Linked DNA regions of Homo sapiens. The protein of the gene in region 2 interacts with the protein of the main gene of each other region in a biochemical or structural test. Each region holds a gene or a part of one and is shown on either strand. Other genes may lie near its edges.

Evidence for each region.
Region 1: the proteins of SH3YL1 (region 2) and SH3D19 form a complex in vitro, tested with the Homo sapiens proteins (one study listed by BioGRID).

The regions. Positions count from the first base shown.
Region 1 is NC_000004.12:151,125,602-151,134,267, forward strand, and holds part of SH3D19 (SH3 domain-containing protein 19), read right to left. Parts: intron 7,636-8,666; coding exon 7,433-7,635; intron 6,783-7,432; coding exon 6,730-6,782; intron 2,756-6,729; coding exon 2,569-2,755; intron 2,115-2,568; coding exon 2,017-2,114; intron 1-2,016. UniProt on the Homo sapiens protein: May play a role in regulating A disintegrin and metalloproteases (ADAMs) in the signaling of EGFR-ligand shedding. May be involved in suppression of Ras-induced cellular transformation and Ras-mediated activation of ELK1.
Region 2 is NC_000002.12:253,118-261,783, forward strand, and holds part of SH3YL1 (SH3 domain-containing YSC84-like protein 1), read right to left. Parts: intron 8,014-8,666; exon of another isoform or gene 6,968-8,013; intron 3,224-6,967; exon of another isoform or gene 3,090-3,223; intron 1-3,089.

The DNA.
Region 1 (8,666 bases), on a different chromosome or scaffold from region 2:
CCAGCACTTTTGGAGGCTGAGGCAGGCAGATCACGAGGTCAGGAGTTTGATTCCAGCCTGGCCAGTATGGTGAAACCCCGTCTCTGCTAAAAATACAAAAATTAGTCAGGTGTGGTGGTGTGTGCCTGTAGTCCCAGCTACTTGGGAGGCTGAGGCAGAAGAATTGCTTGAACCCAGGAGGCAGACCGAGATCATGCCACTGCAATCCAGCCTGGGCGACAGAGCGAGACTCCATCTCAAAAACAAAAAAAAAAAAAAAAAAAAAGAAAGGAAGGAAGAATAAGAAATATCTATTATTTGCTAACAATATATTATAACAGAAATGACATTTAATACAAAAAGATGAAATAACATTTTATTATTCAGAATAAAGTAAAACCCCATCACAAAATAGGAAGTTAGCAACTTTATGGTGACATATTTCAGTCAAGGCATCCCCCCTTACCCCGACAAAGGCTGCACATACCTGATTCAGGTATTGCCTTGTTTTCCTCTTTTTCTTTGTTGAGATGGGGTCTTGCCATGTTGACCAGGCTGGTTTTAAACTCCTGGCCTCAAGCGATCCTCCTGCCTTGACTTCCCAAAAGTGTTGGGATTAGAGGTGTGAGCCACTGTTGCTCGGCCTTTTTCTCATCTTGTTGCAGACAAGTGAAAACCCTGTTTGGTTGTCCACTGTTTTAAACCACACCTTGTCCAATCATTCCTTGATATGTTAATTCTTTCTATGGCATCCTTTCCTCTGACTGAATATCTTCAATGACAGAGAATTTACCACTGCCTGACACAGGCTATTTTGACAGCAGTGACTACTAAAACCACCCTCCTTCTTCTAGCACTGTTCCCAAAGTGCTTTCCTCTGACTATGGTCCAGTTGTGGATTAGGGAAATAGAATCATGAAAATATCTACTTTTGGCCGGGCGCGGTGGCTCACGCCTGTAATCCCAGCACTTTTGGAGGCTGAGGTGGGCGGATCACCAGGTCAGGAGATCAAGACCATCTTCACTAACATGGTGAAACCTCGTCTCTACTAAAAAAAATACAAAAAAATTAGCTGGGCATGGTGGCGGGCACCTGTAGTCCCAGCTACTCGGGAGGCTGAGGCAGGAGAATGGCGTGAACCGGGAGGTGGAGCTTGCAGTGAGCCGAGATCGCCCCACTGCACTCCAGCCTGGGTGACAGAGCGAGACTCTGTCTCAAAAAAGAAAAAAAAAAAAAAGAAAAGAAAATATCTACTTTTACTTTAAGAAGAAATTAGGCATTTCTTCGGTGAAAAAAAAAAAAAAAAAAACCTTTGCAAACTAGCTCAACCTTTTGGGACTATTTCCCCAAACCTCTGGTCATTGCCTTTGTGGACAAGAGTGCAGTGGTGCAATCTCGGCTCACTGCAAGCTCCACCTCCCGGGTTCATGCCATTCTCCTGCCTCAGCCTCCTCAGTAGCTGGGATTACAGGCGCCTGCCACCATGCCCAGCTAATTTTTTTGTATTTTTTAGTAGAGACGGGGTTTCACCGTGTTAGCCAGGATGGTCTCGATCTCCTGACCTCGTGATCCCCCCACCTCGGCCTCCCAAAGGAATTTAGTGTCTTATGAGGCTACTATGCTACTAGTGCAAATTGTAGCAGGTGCTATCTGATTCTCCATCAATTTCAAAGACACATCAATGGCAGGCTTGCAGGGCCATGTAGACAGTCATCTGTTACCAGGGCTACTAATAAAAACCCTAATATTACTGAGATCTGATGACCTAAGACCAAGGAACAGGGATTACTTTGGGGATGTATGGGGGTGTAAAGCCAAGGTTTTCTCTAAGTACATTAATGCCTGGTTGATACTGTAAATTAACAGGCCTATTTGCACTGTTCACTTTCTCTAATGTCTTCCCCTAGAATCAGGGCCTGAGATCTCTTCATTCTTGAGTAATGATTAATATTCCACCCAAATGTTCCATCCTTCAATGGAAAACATTTAAAAAATTATAGTGCTTAATGCAGTTATGAAGAGATACACATTCTGACCTTGAAGGAAAGTTCATCTTCATTCTCCCCTCGGAAATCATATAAGGCTTTGGCCTTCCTCCCCTTCGGTACTATGGCCAACATACTTTTTGCCTCAGCTGTGAAGACATAAAAAATTTAAATATATAGAAACACAGTGGACTAAAACACAAATCTAACATTTTTTAAAAAAAAACGCTTATCGCTCTAAAAACACAGTATCTTCTCTTCAGAGGTAGTGATATTAGGCAAAGAAAAACATTTTTAAAAACATGTTCAATTAATTTTGAACTTATTTAACTTTCAAAAAGATGAACAATGTTCTTTTAGCAGGGAAAAATTACGTAAACTATATTTATTAGATGGAATTAGCCATTATTTAGTGAAGACATTATCTTTTTTTTCTATAACTCTAACAAAGCATATGAATGAAGTTTGCATAACTTCATGTATCAGCTCTTTCAAATATAGACAGACAAACTGAGCATGGCCAGAGGGGAAAGGAATGTATATAGTTTTGAAGGTTTCAGGCTCCCCGTGAGGAGTCGCATTCATGTCTTGCGGTTGTCATACCTGGGCAGGGCCTCACAAACACTGCTGGGAAGATCCCCTCCCTGTCCTGCAGTCTGCCCCTGCACCAGTCAGAATCCAGACGTTCCAGAATCTGGATCCGGTCTCCCCTCTTGAATGATAAGTCATCACTGGTCTCTGCTGTAAAACTGTGAAGAGCTTCACACCATTCTGCCGGAAGACTGTTAACCTGTTATCAAATTAGAGGTGTGGTCAGAAGTGTAAGATTTTATTTGAAATTGAGTTCTACAAAGCTTAAAAAGTAGTGGGGAAAAAAAAACTAAGGGGTCTTAAGATTTCAAAGCCTGAAGGCTTCTTTAAATTATCTAATACTTTATGTTGCTATCAAGTTTCAGAAGTAAAAGTTTCCAATAATTTTTTCTTAAATTATAACTCTAAATGACAAGTGTGATAGAATTTGTGGCTTTTCTGCTTTTAAGGGATATACAAAGCTTAAGCAAACACTTTTTTACTTTCTTTATTTTCTTTTCTGAGCCAAGTTCTTACTTAGTAACCCAGGATGGAGTACAGTGGCAGAATCATAGCTCACTGCAGCCTTGACTTCCTGGGCTCAGGCAATCCTCCCTCCTCAGCCTCCCGAGTAGCTGGGACTACAGGTGCAGCCACCACACTCGGCTATTTAATTTTATTTTATTTTTGCAGAAATGAAGTCTCACTATGTTGCCCAGGCTGGTCTTGAACTCTTGGCTCAAGTGATCCTCCCACCCTCCCAAACTTCTGGGATTACAGGCATGATCCACCTCACTCAGCCAAAAAACTTTTTTCTTAATATGACCTATTATATTGTTATATTAAAGAATTAGGTAAAAGCATAAAATATTTATGCATAGTATTTGACACTATGAAAAAATTCTGATAAAGTATGTAATTATCAGTGAAGCTCTTCTTTATTTAAATTAGGAAGGATCAGAATGGGTTGGTCTATGAATTCCCAGGTCTTTACTTGATTCAGAGACAATTAGAGTCCATAGCACAGAACTTCATCAATTCACACTTTTAATTTTATGAGCTGTAGTTAACTCTAAGATTGGCAGGATAACACCCAGATGTGGTGGGCTAGTGTAAGAACACTTTTATCCCAGGCACATTAGAGAAAGGTTTTGCTCTGTGAAGAGGCAGCTCTGCCAATTTGGGATGGGAACCCTATGTTCAAGAGGCTCAAGAAGGCAGTAGAGGATAATGAAAAGGCTTTTTTCTTTCGAGATGGAGTCTCGCTCTGTTGCCCAGGCTGAAGGGCAATGATGCAATCTTGGCTCAATGCAACCTCTGCCTCCCGGGTTCAAGCAATTCTCCTGCCTCAGCCTCCCGATTAGCTAGGACTACAGGTGCACACCACCACACCCAGCTAATTTTTGTATTTTTAGTAGAGACGGGGTTTCACCATGTTGGCCAGGCTGGTCTCGAACTCCTGGCCTGAAGCGATCCACCTGCCTTGGCCTCCCAAGGTGCTGGGATTACAGGAGTGAGCCTCAGCGCCTGGCCGGGACAAAGGCTTTGGAGCTACACAGGCAAGGTTTCCAGACCCAGTTCTGCCACTTCTTAACTTCGTGACACTGGGCAAGACGCTTCTCTTCTCTGAGGCTCAGCTTCATCTTGGGGTTACTAAGAGGATTAAATGAGACAATGCATGTCTAACATTTAGCCCAGTGCCTGGCACATCTTAAGTGCTCAATAACTGATGGCTTATAAAACAAAAACAAAAAGCAAGCAAACAACACTAACCCCCTCTTGCTCCTGCACTTGAGTAACCAACCCTAAAGGATGGAACTTATCATTCTCCAAAAATGCAGGCAACAACCATGTGAACATTTCCTTTTGGAGAACTGTAGTCAGTTTCCTTCCTGTTTCACTTTATCAGTGGGTAGGGATAAAGAATTAAGGGACACACAGGCCAATTACAAGTGACATTTTCACAAACACAATGATCCCATCAGGCTTAACTCTTCTAAATTTGTCACAAAAAACAATGGAAGGCCGGATGTGGTGGATCACCCCTGTAATCCTAGTACCTTGGGAGGCTGAGGCAGGTGGAGCGCTTGAGCCCAGGATTTTGAGACCAGCCTGGGCAACAAAATGAGACCCTGTCTACAAAAAATACAAAAATTAGCTGGGAGTGGTGGTGTGTGCCTGTCATCCCAGCTACTTAGGAGGCTGAGGTGGATTGCTTGAGCCTGGGAAGCAGAGGTTGCAGTGAGCTGAGACCTCGACACTGCACTTAGCCTGGGCATCAGAGTGAGATCCTGTCTCAAAAAAACAAAACAAAACAAAACAAAAAAACCAAAATAAAACCAAAAACAACAAAAAACTAAAAACAACAGAAGGCACCACATTCCTAGTACCTTTAAGCATTTCTGGGGTCATGCTGAACAGTGTAAAAATTTTAACCCACTATTTTTCTCTTTCTCATTATACAAATGAAACAAATGTTCCTAAATATTTGGAAAGTTGAGAAACGTATAAAGAAATGGAGAAGGCCAGGCGCAGTGGCTCATGCCAGTAATCCCAGCACTTAGGGAGGCCGAGGTGGGTGGATCACGAGGTCAGGAGTTCAAGACCAGCCTGGCCAAGACGGTAAAACCCCGTTTCTGCTAAAACTACAAAAATTAGCGAAGCACAGTGGCAGGCACCTGTAAACCCAGCTTACTCAGGAGGTTGAGTCAGGAGAATCACTTGAAGCCGGCAGCAGAGGTTGCAGTGAGCCAAGACTGCGCCACTGCACTCCAGCCTGGGCGACGGAGTAAGACTCCGTCTCAAAAAAAAGAAAAAAAAAAAAGAAGTGGGGGAAAAAAACCTACCCGTATATATAATCTCACTACCTAGATGCAATTTAATACTAGTAACTTGAATAATTTCCTTCCAGTCTTTTTATGCTATATATTCAATTTTATATCCCCTTTCCCTATGTTTCCTCTCATGACATTTAAAAACATTATTTTATTTGATAAATCTAGTTTTTCATAGCTTTAGAATATTCTCCCAATAATGGTCATATTTAGGTTGTTTCCAATTTTTTCTTATTATATTAGCACTATGCTCATCTTTGTGACTAAAACCCTATCTCATTTTTTATCCTTTTCTTAGGGTGACAAATAAGAATGTGTACTTTCTCTCTTTTTTTTTTAACACTCACATGCTTATAATTGCTTGTTTAGTGCTGAGCTGCACTGAATCTTTGTTAACTGAATAGGTTAAATGGTATTTTATTGCTGCTTTATTATATATTTTCTTGATTATTAGAAAGGTTAAATATTTTTTCAATATTAGCCACTTATGGTATCTCTTTTATGAATTCTTTTTTTCTTTTTTTCTTTTTTTTTGAGGCAGAGTCTTGCTCTGTCTCCCAGGCGGGAGTGCAGTGGCGCAATCTTGGCTCACTGCAAACTCTGCCCCCCGGGTTCACGCCATTCCCCTGCCTCAGCCTCCTGAGTAGCTGGGAATACGCGCGCTGGTCACCACACCCGGCTGATTTTTTTTGTATTTTTAGTAGAGACGGGGTTTCACCGTGTTAGCCAGGGTGGTCTCGATCCCCTGACCTCATGATCCGCCCGCCTCGGCTTCCCAAAGTGCTGGGATTACAGGCATGAGCCACCGCGCACAGCCTCTTTTATGAATTCTCTAATCATGTCTCTTTTATCATTTTCTTTCTTTCTTTTTTGAGATAGAGTCTCGCACTGCCACCCAGGCTGGAATGCAGTGGTGCTATCTTGGCTCACTGCAACCTCCACCGCCAGGTTCAAGCTATTTTCCTGCTTCAGCCTTCCAAGTAGCTGGGACTACAGGTGCACGCCACCATGCCTGGTTAATTTTTGTATTTTTAGTAGAGACAGGGTTTCACCATGTTGGCCAGGCTGGTCTCGAACTCCTAACCTCAGGTAATCCACCTGCCTTGGCTTCCCAAAGTGTTGGGATTACAGGCATGAGCCACTCTGCCCAGTCTCTGTTTTCATTTTCTATCAGGGTTTACATGTTTTTGTATGAGCTCTCTATATAAAATATATTAACCATCTAAGAATTTATTACAAACATTTGTTGTATGAATTGAAAAATTAATTCATACTATATTCTCTTGAAAATTATGATTTTAATATTCCTCCCAGAGTCTGAACCTGGCTGTCACTATAGTCATCTGTTCAAGCAGCCTACCTGAGAGTTTGAGCCAGAATCTTCTTTTTTGGTTTTCAGTGGTACCTTTGTGCCTACATTAAAAAAACAAACAAACACAAGAAGTCAGAACATTAGATGTGAAGGCCACATAGTATTAAAAACAAATGGTTGAGGTGGGAGGTGGGAGTGAAGACTCTGGGATTCCACTCCGGTCTCTTCATGTATTGTCTATGTTGCGTTAACCTGTACTAACTTCACTGAGCTTGTTTAGTTAATTGTAAACACAACTATTTATAGTCTATATACATTAGTAACAGTCTATAGTTCATTTCTGTTTAAAAGTCTTTGCTATTTATTTATTAGATACAGAGTCTGGCTCTGTTGCCCAGGCTGGAGTGCAGTGGTACAATCATAGCTCACTGCAGCCTTGAACTCCTGGTCTCAGGCAATCCGCCCACCGTGGCCTCTCAAAGTGTTGGAATTACAGGTCTGAGCCATCATACCCAGCCTCTTTGCCATTTCTTATATGAAGCTATTGCTAATTACCTAAAATACCAAAACCAGCTCTTTGAGAGATGCCCACAAATAATGTCTATCCCACACAAATTCCCATTTTAAAATCAGTTTTCCTTCTACCGTAAAAATATGGCAATATGGATTATTATACAGCTTAAGTATAATGATATTATTTGGTTTATTTGAATTAGGACATAACATAATAAAAAAAATTCTCTATACTCACTTAAAACATTTGCACCAGAGGTGGGATAATCCTCAACAGGCTCCACAAAGTTCAGGGGGAAAATCCCAGTTCTGCCTCGAACTTCTCCTCTGGCCCATTCCTCATTCACATACTCTTTAAGAATAATAATTTCTCCCTCTGAGAAACTCAACTCATCCTTCTGCTCTCCAATATATTCAAACCGAGCAACACATCTTGAGCCTCTGAATGAAGAACACATTTTGTGGATTAGACTAGAGAGTGCTTTTAAAATGCTTAAAAACCTTCATTCAGTCTTTCAATAAATATTTATTCTGGGTTTACCATGGAATAAGGTATACTAGGCTAATTTGAAATTATTCCATGAAAAAGAGTAAGTTACACTTTTAAGTAACAGATATGAACCTATTCACTCAGAAAGGCTGAAGCTCAAGGTCGCGGAGTGCACGCAGCTGGGTGGTTAGTTTACCCTGCTGTGTCTTTTGATCTTCTTACTCCCCAGTCTCCGTATGTTTGTATCCTTGGGCCACAGCAATCCGTGGTCCAGTCTGAACCCTTCCAATCATAAATGCACTGAGTTGAGGAGTGCTAACCCTGAGAATCTCAGGGCAATTAATCAAATTTTCTGACTACTAATCAGGGCAGAATGCAATGGGCATCAGCTGGGCAAAGTTGATGTTCAATAGATGCTCAATTAATCAGTGAGCTGGCCTTAAAAACTAGGAGGTTTAAAGAAAACAGAAACTTGGCATATCATAACACACAGTCTTGGAACTAACCCTGTTGCCTTTAAAAATGATTTTTTTAATCTCCTTTAAAAGGGCTTCATTTCTGACATTTGGAACAATCCTTACATGATCTGCAATTTTGACTGAAAATAAGATAAAAGCAGAGATAAAATTGTGTCTCTAGAAGGTGTGCTTTAATACTAATCCCTAGATTTGAGGGTTTAGAAAGGAAGTTTCAATAGCAACAGGCTAAGGAGAAGCAATTGCCTAAAAAGAAAAGGTTGATTCTAGCTTTAATAGAATTCTGATTTAAGTCAGATCAATGGGTCAATGACTGTAAAAGCCCACTTCGAATTCAACCTGCTGAGACACAGTATATGCTGCTTAAAAATAGAGAAAAACTGAATCTGAAATAGAATTCAACTATTGTGGATCAGAAGTTTTCTTATTTGTGATAACCTTTGCATTTGTTTTCTAAAGTCCTCTGGGAGCATCTGCTTATGTCTGACCTATTCATAGACAGGTTT
Region 2 (8,666 bases):
GAAACATAACAAAAGATATTTTAATGAAAAATTCTGCTAAATAGAAGTGAGAAATTTATTATTATTTCATTCTTCTCATATACAATTGTCAGAGGTGTTCAAACCAGAGGGACTCCATTTTGAATAGGAGCTGGGTGAAATAAGGCTGAGACCTACTGGGCTGCATTCCCAGAAGGTTAGGCATTCCAAGTCACAGGATGAGACAGGAGGTCCGCACAAGATACAGGTAACGAAGACCTTGCTGATAAAACAGCATGCAGTAAAGGAGCTGGCCAAATCCACCAAAACCAAGAAGGCAATGAACGTGACCTCTGGTCATCTTCACTGCTCATTATACACTAATTCTAATGCGTTAGCTGCCAAAAGACACTCCCACCAGCGCCATGACAGTTTACAAATGCCATGGCAACATCAGGAAGTTACCCTATATGGTCTAAAAAGGAGAGGACCTCTCAGTTCCGGGAATTGCCCACCCCTTTTCCAGAAAACTCACGAATAATCCACTCCGTGTTTAGCATATAATTGAAAAACAATTGTAAGTATCCTTAGTTGAGCAGCCCATGCCACTACTCCACCTATTGAGTAGCCCTTCTTTATTCCTTTACTTTCTTAATAAACTTGCTTTTACTTTATGGACTTGCCCTGAGTTCTTTCTAGCACCAGGTCCAAGAACCCTTTCTTGGGGTCTGGATCGGGACCCCTTTTTGGTAACACAATGAAGCATTACCACAGCATAGCCTATCAAAGGAAATGACTGGAAATCCTCATTGACAGTATCATCTCTATTTCTCCTAATAAATCAAATCTATGCTGAGAGTCAGAAACTCTAAACTCTCATCTCAGAAATTATAAAATCCTTGGGCCCCAAAGGATGTTAAACAAAACCTGGCCAAACCTCCCTGTTATGTATCTTCTTCCTGCAATTAACAGACTTCAATACTAATTTAAAATAAGAATTTAAAATTTAAAAATATATTTTGTAACTATCTATAATATATAGTATAAATTTAATATATTTTGTTGTTCTTGCCAAAAATGTTGGAACTGGCTGCCTGTAGACTTTCTGATGAGTAAAACTCTAGGAAGACTTGGGAATTGAGCCTACAAGTAACGCCGGCCTGCATTTCTATGGCACTTTACGTTTACAGTGTTGCCTGGACATTCATACACTCATCAGAGGGCTTGTCATAACAAAGCTCACATAATTCTTCCAGCTCTGAAGTATATCGAGAAGATAGACTATTCTCTTGTTACTGGACGAGGGATCAGCAGAGCGAAGAAGCTGAATAGCTTCAGTGTAGGACCACAAGTGCCCTGAGGCTGAGAAGTTCTTGTCTCACTGTCTACAATTAGGAGGCACATGCGTGACTGACTGCAGGATGCCAGGATCTGGAAGGTTGAAGGCATTCATTTCCACTGTTTCGCCTCAGTAATTTACAGAACAGAGATGAAGTACGCTAATGGAAGCTTGCTTTTGTAAAAGGAAAATAAATCTCAGGACCCCAGAATCACTGAGCCAAGGGAAAAGTCAAGCTGGGAACTCTGTGAGGCAAACCTGCCTCCCATTTTATTCCTAAAAAGATAGCTACAAAGGTAAGAAGCTACACACCTCCCTCACAATTTGATCACAAGGAAATTCCCTGTGGACAACAGATGGAACTCAGACTCATCCCTCTGCTCACGTGAGACAAATGCATATCTGATTGTTTCCTTTGCCCTGTTGTTTCACTAAGCCAGACTACAGCCTAAGTGACTATTCCTGTAAATCACAAAGGCTAATCAGACACTCAAAAGAATGCAACTGTTTGTCTTCTATCTATTTATGATCAGGAAGCCCCCTACCCACTTCAAGTTGTCCCGCCTTTCTGGATCTAATCAATCTTACATATATTGATTGATGTCTCATGTCTCCCTAAAATTTATAAAACCAAACTATACTCAAATCGCCTTGAGCACGTCATCAGGACCTCCTGAGGCTGTGTCATGGGCTGTCCTTAACCTTGACAAAATAAACTTTTAAAATTGATTAAAACCTGTGTCAGAGCTCATGTATAAACTCATGGTTTATTCTTTCGACAGATCAAATGCTGAAACAGCAGAGAAAAAAATCCCTTTCTTTTATTCAGCAAAATATAAATATCTCCAATAAAATGTGATATATTTTGGTGCCTGGAATGTTTGAAACATGTAATTTATCTTAAAAGTGAAAACTGGCTGGGTACTCCCAGCACTTTGGGAGGCCAAGGGAGGAGGATCACTTGAGGCCAGGAGTTCGAGACCAGCCTGGGCAACATAGTGAGACCCCCATCTCTACCAATAAAATGATTTAAAAAATTAGCCAGTCATGGTCCTTGCTGAAGTCCTTGCTACCCAGGAGGCGGAGGCAGGAAGATCACTTGAACTCAGGAGATCAAGGCTGCAGTGAGCTATGACTGGGCTACTGCACTCCAGCCTGGGCAACAGGGCAAAGCCCTGCCTCAAAATAAAATAAAATTTTAAAAAGTGAAAACTGACTTAGGGTCATTTTGGAGTTCTATTTAAATTTCTTTAAAAGATGTCAGTATCAGTTCTTTGTGGCTCAACACAGGAGTATTAACAAGATCCAGACCAGGAAAAAAATCCATCCCAAGATTCATCAATGGTATTAAGTCAGATAGAGGAAGGTATTTCCACAGATACTTTATGCAAAATTAAGTGTGCATGATGCATGTGTGTAGCTCTTTACTCCTTTTAAAAACAAGTGGCATCACAGCATTAGTGTATTTTGGCATGTTGCATTTTTTAATCAATGTTATCTCAGAATAGTTAAAATACTGCCTCTCAGTGTAGGCTTTTCAAATCAACTTCATGAGATACAATTTACAAAATGAAATCTACCTGTTACAGGTATAGCTCAGTGTGCATGGACAGAGGTAGAGACCACTCCTGATCACAGCATCCGTGCCCTCTGTAGTGGTCACTCCTATACCCAGCCCCTGCCTCAGGTTAGTGCCAATCTGATTTCTGTCATTAAGTATGAATTTTGTCTGTGCCAGAACTTCATATAGTCATCAGTGTGTGTTCTTTTCTGTCTAGCTTATTTTACTCACCATGAAATTACTGAGACTCAAATTGCTGCACAGATCAGCTCTTCCTTTTTGACTGCCAACTGGTATTCTAATGTGTGGACATAGCACAATTTGTCCTTCCAGTCACTGTTGATAGACAATTGGGTTGTTTCCAGCTTTTGGCTATTACAAATAAAACTGCTATAAATATTCCTTTGTAAGCCTTTTGTAAAAAAATGTTTTATGGCCGGACACGGTGGCTCACACCTGTAATCCCAGCAATTTGGGAGGCCGAGGTGGGGGGATCACCTGAGGTCAGGAGTTCAAGACCAGCCTGGCTAACATGGTGAAACCCCATTTCTACTAAAAATACAAAAAATTAGCCAGATGTGGTGACGTGCGCCTGTAATCCCAGCTACTCAGGAGCCTGAGGCAGGAGAATCACTTGAACCTGGAAGGTGGAGGTTGCAGTGAGCCGAGATGGCGCCATTGCACTCCAGCTTGGGCAGCAAGAACGAAACTCCATCTCAAAAAAAAGAAAAAGAAAAAATGTTTTATTTCTCTTGGGTAATTACCTAGGATAGGAATTGCCAGTTCATGTGGTAAATGTGTATTTAACAATGTAAGGAGCCACCTAAGAGTTCTCTAAAGTGATTACACATTTCAGGCTTCCACCAGAAACTTTTATAAGAGTTCTGGTTATTCCATATCCTCACCAACACTTGCAATGTCCAGTTTTTAAAATTTTAGTTATTTTAGTGGTACACAGTGGCCTTTCACTGTGGATTTAATTTTCGTTTCTCAGATGACTAATGATGTTGAACACTTTTTCCTATTTCTATATCTTGTAAAGTGTCTGCTTAAATCTTTTGTCCACGTCCTTTAACCACTTATTATTATTATTATACTTTAACGGAGTTGTTTTTTTGCTTGTTAATTTGTTTAAATTTCTTATAGATTCTGAATATTAGGCCTTTGTTGGATGTAGAGCTTACAAATATTTTCTTCTATTCTGTAGGTTGTTTTCTCTGTTGATAGTTTCTTTTGCTGTTCAGAAGCTCTTTAGTTTAAGTAGGTCCCATTTGTCAATTTTTGTTTTTGTTGTAATTGCTTTTGGCATCTTTATCATAAAATCTTTGCCAGCGATTATGTCCACAATGGAATTTCCTAGCTTATCTTCCAGAGTTTTTACAGCTTTAGGTTTTACATTGTTAAAACAGGCTAAATGTGACCTGAGAAGAACTCCATACTTCAATATTTGAGTCCTTGTAGATGAACTGCCACCTAACTTAATATGTAGACAAGATTGAGAACTTAACTTAGGAGTATGCATCTGTAACAATAGCTCAGTCTTGGCCAATCCCAGCAGCCATACTTCAACCACTCATACACTGCTAAGTGTTCACATAAGGAAAATGATGAGCTGTAACCAATCCAGTTGTTTCTGTACTTCATTTCTGATTTCTGTACGTCACTTCCCCTTTTTTGGTCTATAAATTTGTTCTGACCACGAGGCATCCCTGGAGTCTCTCTGAATCTGCTGTGATTCTGGGGGCTGCCCGACTTGCATATCATTCATTGCTCAATTAAACTCCTTAAAATTTAATTTGGCTTAAGTTTTTAACAACATTCAAGTCTTTAATCCATCTTGAATTGTTTTTTTGCATATGGTATAAGGAAGGGGTCCTGTTTCAGTCTTCTGTGTATGGCTGGCCAGGTATTCCAGCACCATTTATTGAATATGGAGTCCTTTCCCCATTGCTTATTTTTGTTGACTTTGTCAAATATCAGATGATTGTAGCTGTGTAGCATGAATTCTGGGCTCTCGATTCTGTTCATTGTTCTATGAGTCTGTTTTTGTACCATTACCATGCTGTTTTCATTACTGTAGCTTTGTAGTATAGTTTGAAGTCGGGTAGCATGATTCCTCCAGCTGTTCTTTTTGCTTAGGATTGCCTTGGCTATTTGGGCTCTTTCTTGGTTCCATATGAATTTTAAAATAGTTTTGTTTTCTAATTCTGTGAAGAATGATATTGGTAGTATAATAGGAATAGTATTGAATCTATAAATTGCTCTAGGCAGTATGGCAATTTTAATAATGTTGATTCTTCCTATCCTTGAACAAGGAATGTTTTTCCATGTTTGTGCCATCTCTGATTTCTTTCAGCAGTGCTTTGTAATTCTTGTTGTAGAGATCTTTCACCTCCTTGGTTAGCTGTATTCTTAGGTATTTTATTCTTTTTGTGTAAAATAGGTGTTTTAAATTGTATAATCTGCCATTTCTCGATCTGTTTTTGACTGATTCTTCTTCCAGCTATGGGTTATGTTTTCCTGTTTTTACTCCTTTCTAGTAAAACAGGATTGTAGATATTACCATGTTGAGTGCCTAGATTTCATTGCTTCCCTTAAAAGTGTTAACACTTGTGTTAGCAGGCAGTGAGTTACTTGTAGATCAGCTTGATCACTTGTTGGCTTGTTGTTGTGTTCTGTTTGTGTGTCTAGAGTAGCCTTTAGAACTATTTTATCCATCAAGGTGTGTCCCTTCTGGGCTCTCTCCTGGGTGCCCTGGTTGTTTAATAAGCTGTCTCCATTGTGGCTGTTTCGAATGGCTGTCCCCAGCCTGATGCAAGCACTGTGAATAGTTCACCTCAAAGCTTCATGGCAGTTGTTCTTGCCTGCTTTGCAAATTTCACCCTACACAGCTAGCACTTAATATTCAGCAGAAGGCTCAGGGGGATCCCTCTGCAGATTTCTGGAGCTCTTTCTCTCAGCCGTCCCTCATTGCTAGTAACATGCTCTGCAAATTCCAGTTACCTCAGCCTCTTCAGACTCAATTTCTGCCTCTTCTTTTAAGCAGGAGCCTGGGCTCTGGGTGCCCCCTCCTTGTCCTGCAGTTTAGGAAGTGCTCCAGGCAGAAAACGGTCACTAATGGAGTTCACCTCCTGTTCCCCTTATCTTGTGGATCTCAGACATGTCCACCATGTGCAAAAAGTGCTCTACACACAGCTGTCCAGTTTCCTAGCTGTTTACCATGTGTGAGTAGCAGGAGCCATTTCGCTGCCCTGGCCAGTAGCTCTCAGTGCATTTTCCATTTGTTCTTTTATGATGAGCAATGCTGACCACATTTCACTCTCTCTATCAAAGGTTTCTCATGCACCTTGTTATTTACAGGGGGTTTCTCTCTGTTTCTTATTAATTTATACATTAAAAATTAATATTTTTTTGGAATATGAGTTAAAAACATTGACTCTCTGTTACTTGTCTTTTGAATTTGCTTTTTTTTCTGTTTTTTCTTAATGAAATCAAATCTGTCTTCTATCTTACAAGGGTCTTTTAATAAAACACAGTAATTTTGAAGTTCAAATGGGAAAATAAACAAGCAAGAAGAGCTAGGAAAAAATATGTAATAGGAGAACAATGACAGCCCAGCCTTGACAGAACCTGTGACACATTACAAAGCCTCAATAATTAATACATAATAGCAGATGCAAATATAGGAGAAAAATCAATTCACAAAGAAGAAAATTCAGAAATTAACCCAAATATATTTACAAATTTAGTATATAATAAAAATGACACCTCAATTCTATGTTGAAATGATGTATTGCATACTAGATAATGTTCATTTGGGGAGAAAAACAAAAATTCATTCACAGCTTTGTGTTACAGAAAGATAAACTCCAAATTCATTGAAGATTTAGAGTGTCAAATATCAAATTATAAAAGAACCAGGAATTATAGAATTTTTTTTCAATTTCATAGTGGAAAAGACCCAAGTATGGCAACAAAATTTCTATATTTCTATATTTTTACATGATCAGCAATTATTTGTACAACGTACAAATACATTGTAAAATACAGGAAAAAGTACAGATATGAAAATATGAAGGATAAAAAGCATCTATAACATTAATACTCACCAATACTACTGTCTGCATTTTGATGTATGCTTCAATTGATTCCTATTGCGAAACATGTAGACTGATTCCACTTTTAGCTTTTATAGCCATTACTATCAGGTGGTAATTATCTTGGGAGAGATGCTCTAGATGCTCAATATGTTTTAATTACATTTATACATATATCTAGATGCTGGATACATTTGAATTAGTTCACTGGAGTGGAAACTTGTTCTTTCTGCTGCTGAATATTTCATCTACTTTATTTCAGAGGCAGCACAACTTGTCTGCTTACATTGATGCTGCAGCCATAGTATCTGGAGTGGATTGGGTGACCCGAGGCTGCTGTATCAGGACGACATTCCTTTTGGTGCCACAGCAGGGCTTTATAACCAAAGCTGGTCCAATACCAGCATCTGATGGGGGACTTGTATAGGAGCTGCCAGAATAACTTTTTCCAAGGCACTTCTGTTTCCACTTGCTGTGGGATTTTTGTCTCCACAAGGGGAGAGTCTGAGAGCAAAGCCTTCATAGGGGAACCTGGCAGAAGGTGGAGAGAGCACCTGGGCTCTGCAAAGCCAGACTGAAGTCACAAGCCGCTCTGGACTTCTTCGTCAAATGGACCAGCAACATCTTTTTCTGTTAAAGCAATTTAGACTAGATTTTCTGATACATGCAACTGAAGCACTGTAAATAATACATGAATCTTATCCCCTCAGAAGACTTTCTACTTTGAACTCTCTCAACCAAGCAGTATTAGAGCAAATAAGCAAATTCCTCAGTTGAGAGTTAATCTTGCAAACATCCTGCTGTAGGGAAAGGTCATGGCCTGATCTGTAAACACGGGAAGAGAGCCATTGGACTTGGGAATCAGATGCAGCCTCACACGGCTGCAGACCGCAAGACTCATCCTAGACACAGCTTATGTCACTGTGATCCAGCTGTTGACAAGGCTGGTCACAGTGAGGACATCTTCAGTGTGTCAGCTGAACTACAGAAAATGTTACAGATTCTAATCAACTTCTGATAAAATCATGCGTGGTCATAGTTACATGCAGTGAATTTCTCTGTCAGAACAAAAAGAATATGCAAATAAAAATTTAGACATAAGCCTCAAATCCCATCCTCAGCATCAAATGATGGCTCACCCATTTTTCCTCTGCTGTACCATAAGGCATATAGAGCATGACCTGATCAGAGTGCTGATGTCCCATTCTATCATACTGATGAAGACACAGGTCATTACTAATGAAGCCTCTTAAACCTCACATCATGGTTAGCATCTGCACTCTCATAAACGTCTTAAGTCCCTTGAATCAGGCAAAATCTCTATAAATATTTAAGTTTTTTCTAAAAAAAGAGTGGCTGCCAAACCTCAAGCTAAGAAACTTTCAAATAAAGTTTTCTTTAAAACAAAAGTTAAAATGTTTTAAATTTTCATAGTAACACATTTTTTTTTTAAATTAGAAGGTCTTATAAAATACCGGAAAGACAATTTTTACTTTGGAAACCTCAAAAGCATAAATCAGCTTAAGATCTGGAAATAATTTTAGGTATTGATCGCAGTTCTATAAACTCAATGCTAGAGTCACTGGGGACAAACAGGGACATGAGAATCCTACTCGGAGTAAATTGCCACCTGAGGTGACAAAGCTGACTACGGTTTCCAATCTAGTTGTACACGGAGGGTCAGGAATGAAAGCAAGAAGACCCAAGGGCC